Linked DNA regions of Homo sapiens: region 1 is linked to region 2. A link means that fine-mapping ties the variant in region 2 to the expression of a gene that starts in the linked region. Tissue or cell type: whole blood. Region 2 holds a variant in brackets; the other region holds the start of a gene. All regions are shown on one strand. Distances are between the middles of the regions.

The links. PIP is the estimated chance that this variant, and not a neighbour inherited with it, causes the effect.
Region 1: TMEM255B starts here. The variant in region 2 is fine-mapped to the expression of TMEM255B in whole blood (TOPMed, PIP above 0.99).

Annotation. Positions count from the first base shown.
Region 1 is chr13:113,753,895-113,761,211 of GRCh38, reverse strand. TMEM255B (transmembrane protein 255B) reads right to left here and starts at 1,986. Exons shown (of 9, transcript NM_182614.4): 1 at 1,897-1,986. The coding sequence starts at 1,942. LOC105377805 (basic salivary proline-rich protein 4-like) reads left to right here and starts at 7,093. Exons shown (of 3, transcript XM_047430843.1): 1 at 7,093-7,317. RefSeq lists enhancers at 1,267-1,768, 2,325-2,826.
Region 2 is chr13:113,840,029-113,850,537 of GRCh38, reverse strand. It overlaps GAS6 (growth arrest specific 6), which reads left to right. Exons shown (of 15, transcript NM_000820.4): 3 at 2,488-2,512; 4 at 3,949-4,011. GAS6-AS1 (GAS6 antisense RNA 1) reads right to left here. Exons shown (of 5, transcript NR_044995.2): 5 at 7,697-8,169. Among named protein-coding and RNA genes, the nearest start is that of GAS6, 19 kb to the left of the region's middle. RefSeq lists enhancers at 819-1,440, 1,441-2,064. The variant C/T (reference allele first, on the strand shown) is at 5,132.

The DNA of each region.
Region 1 (7,317 bases), 88 kb after region 2:
TCCTGCCAGCCGGACCTGGAACGCCCAAAAAGAAGAGTGAGTTCCATTTAATCATGTGGGGACACCAGTCATGGTGTCCAAGTAACAATCCCAGGTAAAACTGTAATCACTCAGCCGTCAATTCCTCTTTCGTCCTGATTTTACACATGCCCAGGGTAGTGAACAAAGAAGGGCAAAGCAGAAAAACCCATAATCCTACCCCCAGGTACCCCAAAGCAGAAAGACTATGGTCCACCCCCAGATACCCCAAAGCAGAAAAACCCACAATCTACCTCCAGACACACCAAAGCAGAAAGACCATAACCCACCCCCAGACACACCAAAGCAGAAAGACCATAATCCACCCCCAGGCACACCAAAGCAGAAAGACCATAATCCACCCCCAGATACCCCAAAGCAGAAAGACCATAACCCACCCCCGATACCCCAAAGCAGAAAGACCATAATCCACCCCCAGACACACCAAAGCAGAAAGACCATAATCCACCCCCAGATACCCCAAAGCAGAAAGACCATAATCCACCCCCAGATACCCCAAAGCAGAAAGACCATAACCCACCCCCAGATACCCCAAAGCAGAAAGACCATAATCCACCCCGACACACCAAAGCAGAAAGACCATAATCCAACCCCAGACACACCAATGCTTTATACATTTTAGTAAAAGACCAGCTCCAAACAAAAAGACCCATAATCCTACCCAGATACACCAATGTTTCATATACTAAAAAGACCAGCTCCAAGTATTGTTTTAAGGTTTAAAGTTCTTTGTCAGAAGAAAATCTAAGTCAGATGCTATTTTTAAACATTAAGGCATTCTAATAATGATAAAACTAGTTAATAAATAATAATAATAGTTATCATTATTAAACACCAATAGACTAATCCACATTAATACATTTGACCATAGAGCATTTTGCTTTAGATTGGAAGGCATATAGTGGTTTCTTTTAGAAAGAAGCCAAATTATTTGATTATTTTAAGTAACAGTAATTCGTCCGGTTCCGAACGATGCCGCAGTAAAAGGGTTGTGAGGTTAATCCCCAGAAGTTTGTGTTGGATTATTTCTGAGGGAGCGGCAGAGCCCCCTAGACACCACTCCATCCCTCCCTCCAGCCGTCAGGGCTTCACTTTCTAGGGAACTCTGTTTCTCTTTTGTTCTGAAATCTGCCCAGCCCTCTCCCCCTCAGGAAGACACCCGGCATCCTTCCAGTCCTGGCCACTTCCCGGCAGAGCCCCCGAGCCCGGCTTGCGAACTGGTGAACACGCAACAGGTTTCCTGTTTTCCCAGCCTTTGCCTGGCTCCGAGGCTGCAGCGGGCTTGGTCTGGGAAGTGGAAGAATTGGAGATTCCGTGAACACACCGGGGAGAAACACGAGAGAGGGGCGAGCCGAAACCAAGCAACACTGTCCAGTTCTGTGAGCGCCTCTGCACGTTCAAACAGGAAAAGGCTACCTCGCTCTTCCAAACGAAGTTTTCCCGGAAAATGGTGTAGGTTGGAATAAACGGAAGAGATGGGGAAGGAGCGCACTTTGGGGCGCCTGTTCCTCATAATAAAACGTAACAGGGAGAGAGAGGCCAAGAGGAACGGACACAGAGTCAGAGAAAGGCAAAGACTGAGGAGGCAGAGACAGAAAGAGCGAGAGAGACAGAGACAGAGACAGAGAGAGAGACAGGGAGAGAGAATGAATGAACGAACCGGTAGGACGAACGCCCGACCCCAGTGCGAAATGCAAAGTGTTCCAAAGACAGAGCTCGAAGGAGGCGGAGGGACCAGACCCCGTGCCGCGTCTCCGCGCAGGTTCCGCCCGGGCCGGCCGGGGACCTGTAGTCCCAGCCCCGGGGTCCCCACGCTCCCCCGCAGGAGCCGAGACGAGCCCCCAGCCCCGCGCTCACCTGCGGGGTCCAGCAGGCCCAGGGGCCCGGGCACCGGCGGCTGCATCCCGAGGCCCCACCCGGCTCTCCCGGGGCCACAGCCACAGTCCCGCCGCCAGGAGCCGCCCTCGCGGCGCCGCCCCTTCCCCGCCCCCTGCACCTCCCCGCGCTCCGCCCGCCTCGCGTCCTTCCTCGCTCTACTCTCCCTTCTCCGGCGTTTCTTCTCCTCCCTCCCCCGCTGCGCCCGCTCCCCCTTCTCCCCTCCAGCGGCCGCCTGGTTTCTGGAAATCAGGACGCCGCGGCCGGGAGTGGAAGCCAGACCCCAGATGGAAGGTGCCTGGAGAGGACCCTGCGGACTCGGGGTCGGAGCCCCGGCCTGGGACGGTGACCCCGGGCCTTCCGCCGCTGGCGCCACGCTCAGCCCTTGGCGGTGCCGCTGAGTGGGTCACCACGGGTTCGCCTCCCCATTGGCCGGTGACGGAGCTCCTTGGGGCTACAGGGCCAGCCAGCCCTTGATCTCTGGGTTCAGAGGGTGGTACATGGTGTTACAACCCAGTCTGCGAGGAACGAGTAAATGAGGAACAAACGCAAATGAGTAAATGAGGAACAAACGCATCTGGCACCTCACTCAGCAGCCCCGAGGCAGGGCTGACCCGCCTCTCCAAGGCCTGCGTCTTTGTGTCCACAGCACTGAAGTTGTTCTGAGTAAAATCTGCTGCTGGAAAGAAGGGCAAGGAAACACGGGGCCAGAAAGGGTGCCTCGTACAGCAGCAGGAAAAAATAAAGATCCTTCTAAACGTATTTTTAACATCTTTGAGTCAAGGACATCAGCGGTCCCGTCACAAAAGAAGATGCTTGAACGATCAATAAACTCAGCCCCCGGAATTAGGGGAACGCTGTGGGAACAAGAGGATGCGTTTCACCCTCATCCTATCAGAAAACCCCAAGGGTCAAACAACTTAAAGAATGTTAATGAAAACGTGGGAATCTGCATTCACCGCTGGGATCACGCATGGTGCCACCACTTTGAAAGCAACCTTTAGGAAAATTGAAGCAAGTAGATGACAAGCCAGAAAGAAAGCATATCTCTTTCTAGATATGCCCAAGAACACAAACATAGATCTGCTCCTTCGAGCCAGGAGCCGTGGTTCTCAACCCCGGCTGTCGTTAAAGTCATCCAGGAATGTCTTTAAAAGAAAAAACATTTCTGCAGCACTGAACCCAGACCAGATCAATTGAACCAGAACTTCTGGGAACAAACTAATAGCTAAGAATTCCCTAGTCATTCTAATAGGCCATCCACTGTGAGAGAGAAACTACCACAAGAAGTATGCATGTGCTAGAAGATGCGTACAGAATATTCCTCACAACACTGTGTGTCCAAAGCACCGGACACACCCTGAATATCCAACACGGGGAGAAGCGATAAAGAAATGGGCATATACAGCGAAATACCACATGGCAGTTAAAATAAATGAGAGCTACATGGATCAATGTGGATAAATGCCAAAAACAGAACGCGGAGCAAAAATGCAAGTGCACAGTACGGCAGCGAGTACGACAGCAAGTACGGCAGCGAGTATGGTACCATTTATATAAAGTTTTAAACCATGAAAATTAACACTGTTCACTCAGTGAGCCTCTCAAGACTTACTAAACATCCGCGATATACCAGACACTGTTCCAGGTACTTGGGATGTATCAATGAGCAACGTAAACAAGGATCCTGGTGGGGAAGTGAGGCCATGAATAATAATACAATAAACAAGAAAAATGCACAGCATGTCAGAGGGCAACATGCTATGGAATACACACACACATATACACATACACACATGCAGACATACACACATGCATGCACATACACACATACACACACATGCATATATACACATGCATACATACACACATGCATGCATGTGTGCATACATACATGCACGCATACATACATGCACATACACACATGCATACATGTGTGCATACATACACGCACACATACATACACATACATACACACATGCATACATACACACTTATACGTGCATACATGCACATATGCACATATACATACACACATGCATGCATACACACATGCACACACATACACATGCACACATACATGCACACACATGCACATACACACACATACACACTTATACATACACACACATACACACATACATACATACACAGCCAGGTAATGCAGGCCACAGAAAAAGGAAAGAGAGGTAAAGAAACAAAATAGAAAGTATAGTGTGGGAGAGGGAGGGAGCTGTGGTTTTTAAGTAGTGAAAAGAGAGCTTGTTGACAGGTGATGTTGAAGACCAAGCTTGAGGGCGTGGAGGTGGTTGCTCACCCAGACATCTGGGGCAGAGGGTCTGAGGAAAAGGAACCTCCATGCAAAGGCCCTGGGGTGGAGCCATCCAGGCCCAGGGGGAGCAGCAAGGAGACCAGGGTGCCAGAGGCTTGTGGGGACCAGGTGGAGGACATCAGGGGTGAGCCGCAGGGCCTCTGGCCTTTGCTCCGAGTGATGTGGGGGTTATTGGAGGGTCCTACACATAGGATTACTGGAGAGTAGTTGTAGGATAGCAGAATGGAAGCTGAGAAACTGGTTATAGGATATGATGAAACAGTAGGAGGTGATTACACGGACACCATGAGTCATGTTTGCAGATACACGGACACCGTGAGTCCTGTGTGCAGATACACGGACACCGTGAGTCCTGTGTGCAGATACACGGACACGTTGAGTCATGTGTGCAGATACACGGACGTGAGTCTCGTGTGCAGATACATGGACACCGTCTCGTGTGTGCAGATACATGGACACCGTGACTCATGTGTGCAGATACACGGACGTGAGTCTCGTGTGCAGATACATGGACACCGCCTTGTGTGTGCAGATACATGGACACCATGAGTCATGTGTGTGCAGATACATGGACACCGTGAGTCATGTGTGTAGATGCATGGATACTGTGTAAGTAAAGTAGAAGAACATGCTGGGGGAGAGTGCATGCTTCATCCAGAACTGTGATTCTCTGTCTGGGTGGACAAGCTGAACAGCTTTGGAACTATGTCTAGGGGCTTAAACTCTATTTGTGAAATCTTCTTTCTTTAAAAAAGTTAAAAGACTTGTAAAAAAAGGGGGAATGTTGAGATACCATTAAGGCTAGATGGTGTGGACAGGGATGTTATATTATTCTCTATACTTTTCTGGATGTTTAAAATAGATGATTACTTTTTTGTAACTTTTTATTTTTATCTATTTTCAAACCTAAAGGTGGTTTGCAGGGATAGTGCAAGGAGCTCCTGTGCATCCTCTACCCAGGTGTGCCTTTGTTTGCAGTCTGTCACTTTTTTGTTTTTTGAGACATGCTGTGGCTCTGTGGCCCAGGCTGGAGTGCAGTGGCATGATCATAGCTTACTGCAGTCTCCACCTCCCAGGCTCAAGCGATCCTCTCACCTCAGCCTCCCAAGTAGCTAGGACCACAGGCGTGTGCTGCAACACCCAGCTAAGGTTTATACTTTTTGTAGAGATGGGGTTTCCTCATGTTGCCCAGGCTGATGTCAAACCCCTGGGCTCAAGTGATCCTCCCATCTGGGCCTCCCAAAGTGCTGGGATTACAGACGAGAGCTACTGTGCCCGGCCACAGTCTGTTATATTTTAAAAATTAAATGGACGAAAGGAAAAGAAAAGGAGGAAAAAGGGCGCCTGCTTGGCTCTGCAGGCCGAGTCCCACCCTAAGCCGCCAGGGTGCCCAACCTCTTCCACCACTGAGAGCAGCCCAGGGATTTCCATGTTTGTCTCATTCCACCAGGCTCAGGGAATGCCTTTTTAAAGAGGAGAAAAAGCGCCTGCCTGGCATGGGGAATGTGCAGGGGCCAACTGGAGCACAGCCAACTCAGAACTTCTTCAGGGGCTCCCTGAGCAGGCCCCACCTGCCTCCTCTCCCCAGGCCTGCACCTCGGAAGTGGCTGGAACCCACAGCCAGCACCTGTCCTTCCTTCCCGCCAGCACCACCTTCCTTCTCTACTCACTCAGAGATACCGGGGTTCCCCATGACTGGTTCATCCTCCCCTCACCCCTAACTTTCCGTGGTCCTCAGATCTCTAACCCATTCCTGCAACATCCAGTGAGGTAGGGAAGCAACAGCGCTGGCTCCGAGAGCCAGGGTCAGGGCCAGGGGCTGACTCCCACACTGTCCTGTCCTGAGCATTGTCCAGGCCCAGAGCAGGGCTGGGCTTGGCGCTGGGCTGTGGAAGCACAGGAGTGATCACTGACCTGGGGCCCTGATGGAGCTCAGAGGCTGATGGAGAAGAGACAGAAAGACTGAGCCCTCCCAGGTGATGCCACCGTGTTAAGCTCAGCGCTGAGAGGCAGCGGGAGGTGTCGCAGGGAGGGCTCCCGCAAGGAGAGACACACAGAGCTAAGAGCTGGAGGGCAGGGAGCCAGGCCGCTCGGGCCCTTCCTGGAGGATCGGATGAATCTGTTATCTCTGAGCAAGCTCCGGGAAACAGGAGACAGGTCGGGGGCTGGCTTGATGGGGGCAGTGGATGGGGTTACCCAAGATACGCTGCGACCTGTGAGCGTCCGGGAAGGGATTCAGGCTTGGGAGGAGTCCAGGAGACAGAAGTCATAGGATTGCCAATCTTTACAGTGGGACAGGTCCTTGGAGGTCATTCCGGTTACTACAACTGTGGGACAAATGACCCCATAACTCAGTGGCTTAAAAAACCACATTTATTTAGTTGGAGTTGAAATTTGGGCAAGGCCAGGAGTGGACACCCTGCCTCTGCTCCACTCAGGGTGAGCTAGGGTGGCTCCCAGGACTGGCGCGTGGCTGACTGTGGCTGTGCCTGTAACCTCTCCAGGTGACGTGGGCTTCCTCATGACATGGGGGCTGGACTCCCAGGAACGTTGGGCAAGAGAGAGAGCCGGGTGGAGTCTGTGGCACCTTCTGCAACCCAGCCTCAGCTTCACGCTGTGTCACCTCTGCTGCCTTCTCTTCAGCAGCCCGGTGACAAAATTCAAAGGAAGAAGGAAGAGCCTCTCCTTGTGTGTGGGAAATAGAAAGGTGATGTGGTCATTTGGGGAAAATAGAATTTGCCACAGGGATCACTGTGTCAGGACAGGACCCTCACTACAGGGAGGCTGGAAGGTGAACAAGCGATAATAAAGATAACGAACCTTTTCCTCTTACTTCAGCAGATATTTCGCAGCTATTTGGGCAGCTTGGAATGGGAACTGGTGGTCTTCCTAGACCACAGGTAATGAGGGGTGGCGTGGAGGAGGCAGCCGTGCCAGGCAGGAAGATCATCCTGGGATCTGCGATGTGTGCATCGGAAGCACCCAGAGAGAATAGAAGCTGCCAGAAAAATGCAAGGAAACCCAGAAACTCGGAGAGCACAAACGAATCACAGTTTTTATTGTGTGAATTT
Region 2 (10,509 bases):
TTCAAATAAAACAGAAGCAGATCCCCGGGGAAAGGATTTCCAGGGGCCAAATGGCGCCATTTCCAGCCTGGGAATCCCAGCTTCTTCCCCCTGTTGCCCTCACCTAACCCCAGCACGCCAACCCATTACCATAGGTCTTGCTCTTCCTAGGTTTAGAAGAAAGAGAGTCAGTGTGTACATAAGGAGCTCCTGGTTCTAAATTCCGGCCTCCTGAGTGGTGGCCTCTGCTCCATGGGGACTCCTGGGGGTGCTGCTCTGGAGATATGGCTAATGCAGGGCTTCAGGCCAAGGTTTATGGACCTGAACAAGCAGTAGTGCAGACAGGGGTGGGAGGGTTTTGAGGACAAAGTGCTCTGTGTTTGGTTCTGCAGGTCAGGGAGCTTATCTGGGTGCCTTTACTCAAAGCCATTTCTGGGTCTTACATCTTTGGCTAGAATGTTCTCAGGACAATGTGAAATGTCTTTATCTCAGGAGTGTATACCAGAATGTTCTCAGGACAACGTGAAATGTCTTTCTTTCTTGGGAGTGTGTACCAGAATGTTCTCAGGAAAATGTGAAATGTCTCTTTTTCTTTCTCTCAGGAGTGTATAGCGTTTTTAGGTTTATTCATCTTAGCTTTTCTCTTGCTCATGGTTTAACCATCTTTCCCCTAGTTTGCCGGTGGAATTAGCATATGCTTTCTGCCTCCATTACTGTCTCAAATAATCAAACATGCAAATTAGGATACAGTGCCCAGGGCTATAACCCTGTGGTTTCAGAAACCCCATTCCCATAGGTGTGGCGAACTGACAGGAGATTGGCATAGTTTTTCCATGAATAATGCCTTTTTGCAACAATAAAACTTGGTATTAATACAGATTACACATTAAGTAGTATGACTAGTCTTGATTTTGAAAAATAGAACACACTTGCTGTAAAGCTGTGGTAATGCAAGCATTTGTGTATAGTTAGGCCGTTTGCTCACTAGTTCTTAGTTGTTTTCAATCCCTGGCTTCTAAACCTGAAAGGACACCTTTTGCATCCCTCGCAAGTCTTTTATTTCAGAGCCAGAGCCTCCTGCTTTGAGACAAAGCCCCATCACTTCCCTTCTCCTTCCAAGCCTAGAAACCTGGTGCCACTTCGTGTTGCTCCAGGACTCCACCAGGGCTCACTTGGTATGGCTGTTCTTGCCTTTTCTTGGAGTTTGCCAACCCATGACTAAAATTGGAAGTGAGAGAAATGAGGGCAGGCATGAGGGTGTGTGTTCCAGGTCTGCAGCCCTCCTGGCCTTCAGGGCGGCCGCCCTCCCAACAGACACGTGAGCTGCACACCAGCTCACCCTGACCCTTCCTTTCTCTTAAGGGAGTAAGAGTTTAAGAGCATCCCATCTTTCCTAGAACACAACTTTGTGAAAACACATCCAAGCAGGCCTCAGGAGGGTGTTGGCAAGGCTGGGGCGGGGCCTCCAGGCTCTTCCCACAAAAGGTGTGGCAAGGCCAGCAAGTGTGGGAGAGAGGTGGGAAGGAGGCAGAAAGGCCATGCAGAGCCAGCGCATGAAGCCAGAGGCGCGTTGCAGACGGCGCTGGGTACCTACCGCCTCTGTCTGCTACTCTGCAAAATGCTACCAGCGCCTGCTAATCCTGACCTTCATGCCCCCAGGTGAATCCCACAACCATCCTGAAGCCGGGTTTCCTCATTCCTGATAATGGGATTAAAAAGACCTTCCTGGGTGTTATTTGTGAGGATTTCATAAAATAGTGTAAAAATGCTGACTCATACCCAGCATGGAGAGGCCGCTGGGACTATTCTGCCATGACTGTGGTCTCTTGGTTTAGAGCATTTAGGGCCAAACTGCTGGCATGGTTGACCCTAAGCTGGAGATTGGAGGCTGCTTTAACCAGGCTGTGGCCCTAGAATCTGTGGGCCATGGCAAAAGGATCCTGAAGAAGTTTCCGGCCGGCCTCTGCTGGCCAAGTGACAGGCAGGTGGTTCCAGGACTCGACAGCTCACTTGTGTCGAATGTGGACCTCGTCAGTGCGCTTTCATGGATAAGAAGACCCTTCATTACAGCCTCCATCCTCACCCAGTACCAATTTTGTTTCACCAATACTATAAGTGCAAATCAATGCCCGTGTGCCAAAAGAAAGGTCTTTGGGGTTTTGAGAGACCTTTGTGTCAACAGGGAACTAAGGTCTTTGGGTTTTAGAGACCCTTATGTCAACAGGGAACTAAGAGTGGGGTTTTACTTGGAAGCATTCTTGTCCTCCTGGGCAGGCCTCTCCCCTGGACACACCTGGTAGCACTTCCTACGCAGCTGGAAATGGCCCTGCCTTTGCTTGTTGGTCTCACAGCAGTCGTGCCCCGGTCACTTCCCCTCAGTTCCCCGGGTGGGGCGGCCCTCTGGCTGCCCCGAGAGCAGCCTCTGATTAACCAGCTGATGCTTATGTTGTTCAGAGACCCTCGTAGTGTGCCGGTCAATGCTTGCCTTTTCTTTTTCTTTTTCCACAGGATTATTTTTACCCAAGATACTTAGGTAAGTCTCAATTACTTCTCTACTCTGGTTGTCGTAGAGGCATAGTTGGGGGTGCGTGTTTCATGTTGGAGGAATCTCCTCACCACGTAACTCTTGGAAGGAAGATTCTTAATCACATGGTGCACGTGGAACTGTCCGGAACATGCAGGTCAGAAACACAAGTTTCTCTCTTTATTTTATACCACAGCTTTATTCCGTGTTAGTGGAACCTCAGGTGAATGCTGTTATCTGCAAACCCCTTCTCTGAGTTGATGCCAGGCTCAGCTCCTTGTCAGGACGTGTAATTGATTTTGTCCTCCGGTTTTCTGACCTCAGCACTAATCACTTCTGAAGTCATTGAGGACCCCAAAGGGGTCCATGTTCATGTGGGCTGTATTGACTGATATTTACCGTATTCTTAATTAAAACCGAAAACACTGAATAGTGTTTCTGTTTAATTTGAAGAACGGGAATGCCAGACGTTATCTCAGCCATCAGAGCAGCTGGTGCATGTGGGGCGGCCTCTGGAGACCCCCACTGTACACTTGGGAAGGGAGGACAGCAAGAAAGTGAAACCCAGAGACCCCGGGTCAGCCCGTTTAACTGACACCATCTTAGAGCTCTTTGAGAGCATTTCACTTAGAAGGAGAGAAATGTATTCCAGGGTCTTCTTTTTAATGTTGCAAAGTGCATTTTAGTAAATGTCCTCTTAAAGGGTCCTTCCCTGGGTCCATATCTGGAACAAACACAGTGGGTCTGGCACTGGCCCAGAAAGCCCAGGCACCAGCGAGGACTGAGTTCTGAAGCAGGGGGTGGCCAGCGGTCCACAGCACACCTGCAGGAGGCCTTCCGCTGTTCATCCGTGCCGTTCTGCGCCTGGATAAGCAACAGTAACCCACTGAAGGGCCAGGTCGAGAGGCCCCGCACCGTTCTGCACAACCTCACGCTTCGGGTTATCCCTGGATGTGCATGTGCCAGGCCTCGCCTCCCCCCGCCGCCCTAGCGGGATGTCTGCTGTCAAGCTGTGTTCAGCCAGCCAGAGAGCATGGAGGGGCTTTCTCCAAAGCAGAGTGGCTTTCCAGTTAAGCACAGCGTTTCCCAATGGGGGTCCACTGGAAAATGAAGTTTAGCTTTTCGAGTACCGTCAGGAACTTACTGAGCATTCCCGGTGATTCTCCCGTATGGCAGGAGGAGCCCCCTCGAAACGGCGGGCGGTGCTTTACGCACTTGACTGTGGGTGCACAACTCCGCTGAGTTGGTGGAGGTGGTTTCCTGTTTGTCAGGGTTGGGGCTAACATGTTTTTTATTAACACAAGCTAAGCGGCATTGTTTCTGGAGGATGATAGCACCCCAGGTAAGCAGAGTAACTGCCTCTCCAGAGCGTCTCAGAAGCAGAGGCTCTGCAGTCCATCCGGTCTTGTAAGGATGACTGACATCCATTCCCTTTCTTCCTGCAGACTGCATCAACAAGTATGGGTCTCCGTACACCAAAAACTCAGGCTTCGCCACCTGCGTGCAAAGTAAGTCGGCCTCCTTTGCGCCTTCCTGGGAGCACTGTGGGTTTGGGCGGCTTTAGGCTTGGCTGTGGTTTGTGGAGGGCCCTGAATAGTTCTGTTTTTTAAGGAGCTGTGGTCCCTTGCCGAGGCCTGCTCCCTTTTCGCCAAACTTTCTTTTTTAAACAAGTAAATTTTGACGTTTTTAGCAATAGGCAATAAATGCACATGGAACAAAATGTAAATGTTTCACAGAGTGTGATGTGAAAGCCCATCCCCGCCTCTGAGTCGTCCAGTCAGACACCACCGTAGTTACAGTTCCAAGAATCTTGTGCTTAGACATGTAAACATGTGTGAGCGGCCTTCCGCTCTTCACACGCGTGGCGGCTTAGCACACACGGTCTGTCCCGTGCCTCTGCAACTCTGTCTGCACAGGAGACCCTCTCTTAGCGTGTCTCACCTTCACGCTGGCATTTCCAGCCGGTGCATCATATGAACTTAGCCCATGCATATTGGCTGATGTCCAGGTTATTTCCAATTTCCATCATTTAAACAAAACTGGCGTGACATCCTCATGCACCTGTTGCCTCCCACACGTCTGAGTGTCTGCGGGATGCGTTCCCAAGGATGGAATCGCAGAGGCAGTCCTCATGTTTCCTTTGGATACAGATACTGCCAAATTATCCCAGAGCCAGCCTTAGCCTCCGCCCCTGCAGGGGTGAATGAACTGTTTTTTTAAACTTTTGATCTCTTCCAATGTAACAGGCGAGAAATGACATCAGTCATTTCAGGTTTTTTTTTTTTTTTTTAACTAATGAGTAAAGCTGTCCTTCATAGGTTTAAAAACTGTGTATTTCTTTTCCTATAAACTGTTGTTTATATTTTTTGCCTGTTTTTCTCAATTTGTAGGAGTTTGCACATTAGCCATTGGTAGTAAAGTTATCAAAAATTTTTTCAGCTTGCCACAAGTCTTTTTTATTATTTTAAAATTATCATGCAATAAGATTGATTGTTTTGGGTGTCCTGTATGAATTTTAACATACCTTCAGCACAACCCACACAGCTCCCCTTGCACTGGGTCTGTGGTCCGCTGGCGTCACGTGTGTCTAGTTTTAGATGAAAGTCCAGCTTGGTGAGTCCCTGTGGG[C/T]GCTGAGAGCAGAGGCGTGGCGGGACGGAGTCATCCTGGGAGAGGCAGGAGTCTCTTCCCAGGCATGGCTTTGGAGCTGGATCCCAGTCAGCAGAAGGAGTCAGAGGTGGCTCAGTCCCGCTCCCCAAGCCCCACGCACTGTCCGTGGGCGTCTCTGGCCTCCCGGACTTGTATCACAGACCCCAGCCCAAGAGACACAGGCAGAGGAAATGCTCAGTGTAAACATGGGAATGGGAGGGTGGCCCTGCCCTGTGGCCCGGCCTGCCCTGACCTGCAACCATGCACAGTAGCCAGGTGCCACGTAGGGCCCAATGTCTGCATTTGGGGCAGAGGCTCCTGCGTGCTCAGAGGAGACAAGCAGATCCTGTCACGCGTGTTTTATCTTAGTGATTGCTAAACCAGTCTCTTCTTTTAAATTCTGTATTCACACTTGTTATACTCTCTTAGTTCCTGGGCTTTAGGCTTCTCCCCAAGATTACAAAACAGTTACCTGCTGTTAGGTGTTTTCATCTGTGACCCGCCCGTAATTTCTTTTGACGTGATGGATGAGGTGGGGATCTAGACTGCAGGCTCAGTTCCTGCCCCAACACCACACATTTGAGTCTGTCTCACCCCAGTGCCTCACCTGCTGCCGTCCTCATATGCTGGGTATTTGGGAGATTTTCTGCCGGGTTTCCACAGGCCGTGGCCACAGCTTTAGACTCGGCCTCATGCACGCGGGTGGGTCTCCTATGCCCTCCTCAGTCTTTTTTCTGGTTGTCTTGCTTATTTTTTAATAAAACTAAACCTTAAAAATATTCTTAAAAACCTAAAAAAGCCCTTTAGATATTTTTAACTGGGCTTGCCATTCATATATCGGAGACTGTGTCTGAACAGTGTTGCGCTTTCCTAACCCCGGCACCGTCCTGTCCGTCCCTTGGAGCACTTTTCTTCCTGTGCGTCCCGTGCTTCCTTTGCTCAGTTCACTTCTGGCTATTTGCAGCAAAGAAGGCCGTCCTTTTCAAGGCGTCGCCTCGCTTCCTTGCATGGATGAAGAGGAGTGATTGCTACATGTTCCTTTCTGTTCCCGCCGCCCAATAGAGTTATCTTGTTTTGGTTATTTCCTTTGTGGCATCAGCGTCCCCAAGTGCGGCCAGCTGGGGAGAGGAGGGCAAGGTCAAGATCCTTGAGTTTGTTCCCTGTGTGATAGGAAGAGAATCTCTTGCTGTGGCTGGTGCCAGAGGCAACACATGCAGTTTCTAACGGGTCCACCTGCCCCAGGCCAGAAGCTCCGGCCACTCTCCCTGAGCCGGCCCTCAGAGGCTGCCCTGCCTGTGGCCTGGGGCTCTCAGCTTCTCCTCCAGAGCACGTGGCTGGGGCCTCTGATGTTCGCGTGCCTCAAAAGATGCCTGGCGGTGAAGAAGGTGCTTTGGTGGCCTGGCCACAGCAGGCAGCCTTGCACTCCCTTGGGAAGGCGCCTCCCGGAGGATGCAGCTGGGGCAGCCTCACACTCTGTTCCTGTTCATTGGTTCCCTCGTGAAAATTCTCTGACTTGGTGCTCACGGTGCTGTCCTGGCTTCAGTTCACTGGTTATCGGTCATTGTGAAATTAAAGCCATAGCCCCATAAAGTCCAAATTCAGCCCCAGACAAGCAGGCCCCCAGCGGGCCTTGCATGGGAGCCTGCGGCCCTCAGGCTGTCCCAGGACCCAGGCGGCACAGTGGACGGAGGGAGGAGGCCTGGGAAGAGTGTAGGCTGCGTTCCCAGGTGCCCCTGAAGAGCCTCTGCTTCCATTTCTTTCCTTTCCCACGGACACACCCAGCTTCTCCACTGCGAACGCGCCCGTCCTGCCATAGCGGCCACTTGGTGCTTGGATTTCTCGGCTCCTTTGACCCATGGGTTTCCCCAGGAAGGTCAGGTCCCCACAGGCGGTGGCCCAGGCAGCGGTCACTGAGCCCCGGCTACCGGGATCCCACCCCCGCCACGGGGAGTGTCCCCTCGCCCTTCCCTCGGGCAGACAGGGCTCTGGTCCTCGCTCGTCACCACCCAGGGAAAGGCCCTGGCCGCCCGCACCGGCTTCAGATTCCAGCCACAGCCACAGCCGCTCCCTCCTGTCCTTCAACGCAGTCATGGGCCAAGCTGAGATAAACCCTTCACCTCCTGAACAGGCGCTGGCGCCCAGGGCATGACCAGCCAGGCCACCGATACCCTAGGCCCAGCTTGCGGGATGGGGATCAGGGAGGTGGGCGGGGGTCAGGGAGGTGGACGGGGTCAGGGAAGTGGGTGCCCTCGGGGGCCTGCAGAGGTTTCTGTCTCCATCGCTTTCCCTGTTGTGTGGAGGAAATTCCACAGATATTTGCTGGGCACCGGCTGACTGTCCACCCCTCAGGTGTGGTTCCGTCCTTGCATCCTAGAGGTATCAATACATTCCCAACAGGGAAATAAACAAATGAGTTGGGGGAGGCCCCGGGGCAGGTGGCATGAGTCTGGGGACCGCTTAAGAGCTGGGCACCTGGCAGGAGCAGGCACTGTCCCTCAGCCTCAGGGACAGAGGTCTTTCCGAAAGGCATTCCAGGCAAAGTCAAGACCGGGTTCCCAGCCCTTTGCATCACATGGGCAGGTGTCCACTTCTGAAATGGCTTTAATCTCTAACCAAACATCGTAGCGGCAGCGCACAGCATCCCCCAGACATCCCTCCATGGTGGGGGCCTCTGAGGAGGTCAGGTTCTGGTGCCGGAGGGTTGGGCCCTGCACAGGCCGCCTGCCCTGCACGTGTCTGACTCCCTCCTGCCCCCAGAGCCTCTTCATCTGAGGCCAGGGTGGAGAAGCGGATACGCCCCTCATTTCTCTAGTTCAGGCCAGACCTCCCCGTTCCAGGCCCTGCTATGACCACATCGACGTCTCCAGACGCCCCGCGGACACAGCACCCAGGTACAGCCGGGCGACAGCAGTGTCAGGGATGGGGCCCCGGCCGGCTCCTGGCGGCTGTGCTGATGCAGAATCCCTGGTCCTGGTCCTCGTTTCCTCGTAACTCCGAAGGCCAGCCCCAGCCCCTGTGTGCTTCAGAGTAGAAAGCGTTTATAGTGACCTGCTGAAAATAGCATCTTAGAAACACTTCGAGACGCGAGCTCCGTCCACACCCACAAGTGTTCTGTTGTCAGTCATTTGTGCAAAACAAGCAAACGGAGGTGTAGGGAGGAAACTGTGGGGTGTACTGAGGAAACTGAGGCTTATAGAGGAAACTGTGAGGCAGACGGAGGAAACTGAGGTGTATGGAGGAAACTGAAGCATACAGAGGAAATTGAGGCGTATGGAGGAAACTGGGGCGTATGGAGGAAACTGGGGCGTATGGAGGAAACTGGGGCGTACAAAGGAAATTGAGGCGTATGGAGGAAACTGGGGCGTATGGAGGAAACTGAGGCATATGGAGGAAACTGTGGGGCGTACAGAGAAAATTGAGGCGTATGGAGGAAACTGTGGGGTGTATGGAAGAAACTGGGGGGCGTATGGAGGAAATTGAGGCATATGGAGGAAACTGTGGGGTGTATGGAGGAAACTGGGCATATGGAGGAAACTGTGGGGCGTATGGAAGAAACTGTGGGGCGTATGGAGGAAACTGTGGGGCGTATGGAGGAAACTGTGGGGCGTATGGAGGAAACTGGGGGGCGTATGGAGGAAACTGGGCATATGGAGGAAACTGTGGGGTGTATGGAGGAAACTGGGCATATGGAGGAAACTGTGGGGTGTATGGAAGAAACTGGGGGGCGTATGGAGGAAATTGAGGCATATGGAGGAAACTGTGGGGTGTATGGAGGAAACTGGGCATATGGAGGAAACTGTGGGGCGTATGGAGGAAACTGTGGGGTGTATGGAGGAAACCGGGGCGTATGGAGGAAACTGGGGCATACGGAGGAAACTGTGGGGCGTATGGAGGAAATTGAGGCATATGGAGGAAACTGGGGCATACGGAGGAAACGCGGGTGTACGGAGCAAACTGTGAGGCATACGGAGGAAACGCTGTGAGGCATACGGCGAAGCGTCGCAGAAAGAAGCCAGTGTGGTTGGGCAGCTTCCCCAAGAAGCCTGGGACTCGTAGCCAGGGCCTCTGGTGAGCGCGGTGCCTGGACCCGCCTAGGAGGACAGGGGCTGTGTCTGTGCCGGCCACAGGCAGTGACTGTAAGCCCTGGATGAGCTGGAGGAACTCAGCTTTGTGAACCACAGACCCGCCCGCCGCTCACCCTGGCACCGGGCACCCCTGACCCCGGCCAGGTGGGGATGGAAGCGGCTCCTGCACTGACAGCCGAGCCCAGACCCTCTGGTGGAAACGCCACATTCTACAGACCTGGTGGGAAACGTCACCTTGGGAGCCTCAGGAACAGAAGCGACACGCTGGCAGTGAGAGCCCATGCACTGAAGACTCGACGTGCCCCCACCAGGGCTGACCCCTTAGGACGATGCTGGCCCAGTGCCCTAGGGCCCTGCTGGCCCGGCCTGCACTTTTCCCAGGGACTGGTCCTTATTGAACTTGTGTGGAATCAATGGACCGGAGCCCTCTCTCAGCCAGCAGGGGGGCCCTACCCAGGGTTCCCCACGGAGCCCTGTGTGGCTAAGCTGAGCGTGGCTGAGTCCTCATGTGGGGCTGAGCTGAGTGTGGACCGCGCCCCTGAGCACTGCCATGCTCAGCCCCGAGCTGCTTCTGCTCTGCCAGCAGCCATGAAAGGATTCTTTGAGCTCCGGGTGTAATTGTCGTTCTTTCTGCCAACTTCCCGGGGCTCAGGCTTGCGTAACTGCACTGTCGGGGGCTTCCCTGCCTGCCTCTGGGACGTGGTTTGGGTCCGTGTCCTGGAAGCGTGTTTGTGAGCAGCTCCTCGTATGAATGTGTTTGTGAGCAGCTTCTCGGATGGGGGACTGCTTGGGAAGCAGCTGCACTGGCACGGGTTCCCACCCTCAGGCCCTCACCCGTTCCCCTGACCTCTGGCCCTGCAGGAGCTGAGCCCAGGTGACCACCCTGAGAAAGGGCAGAACACACCTGGCCTAAAGCCATCAAGACACGTGGAGAGGGGGCAGCTAAGCAGAAAGAGGGGGGCTTCCTGGAGGACCCCTCTGGCAGTGCAGCCTGGGCCTGGGGTCCTCCCCGCCACACCCAGCAGGGAGAGTTCACCAGAGATGGGCTAGGGGCTGGCCAGGGAAGGCAGAATGTTCCGAGTCTGCCTGGAAGCCCCCAGGTCAGCTGGGGGTTCTGTGTGCCTACTCCCTGGGAGGTCTGAGCTCCCAGGCCTCACGCCAGGCAGTTCCTGCTCCTTTGCCCTCAGCCCTTCCCACCTTGCGTCCAGGCCTGCTGGCACTCCCTCCCAGTTGATCTGAGTTTTCCTGGAGCCGGCCCCAGGGCCCGCCAGCCTA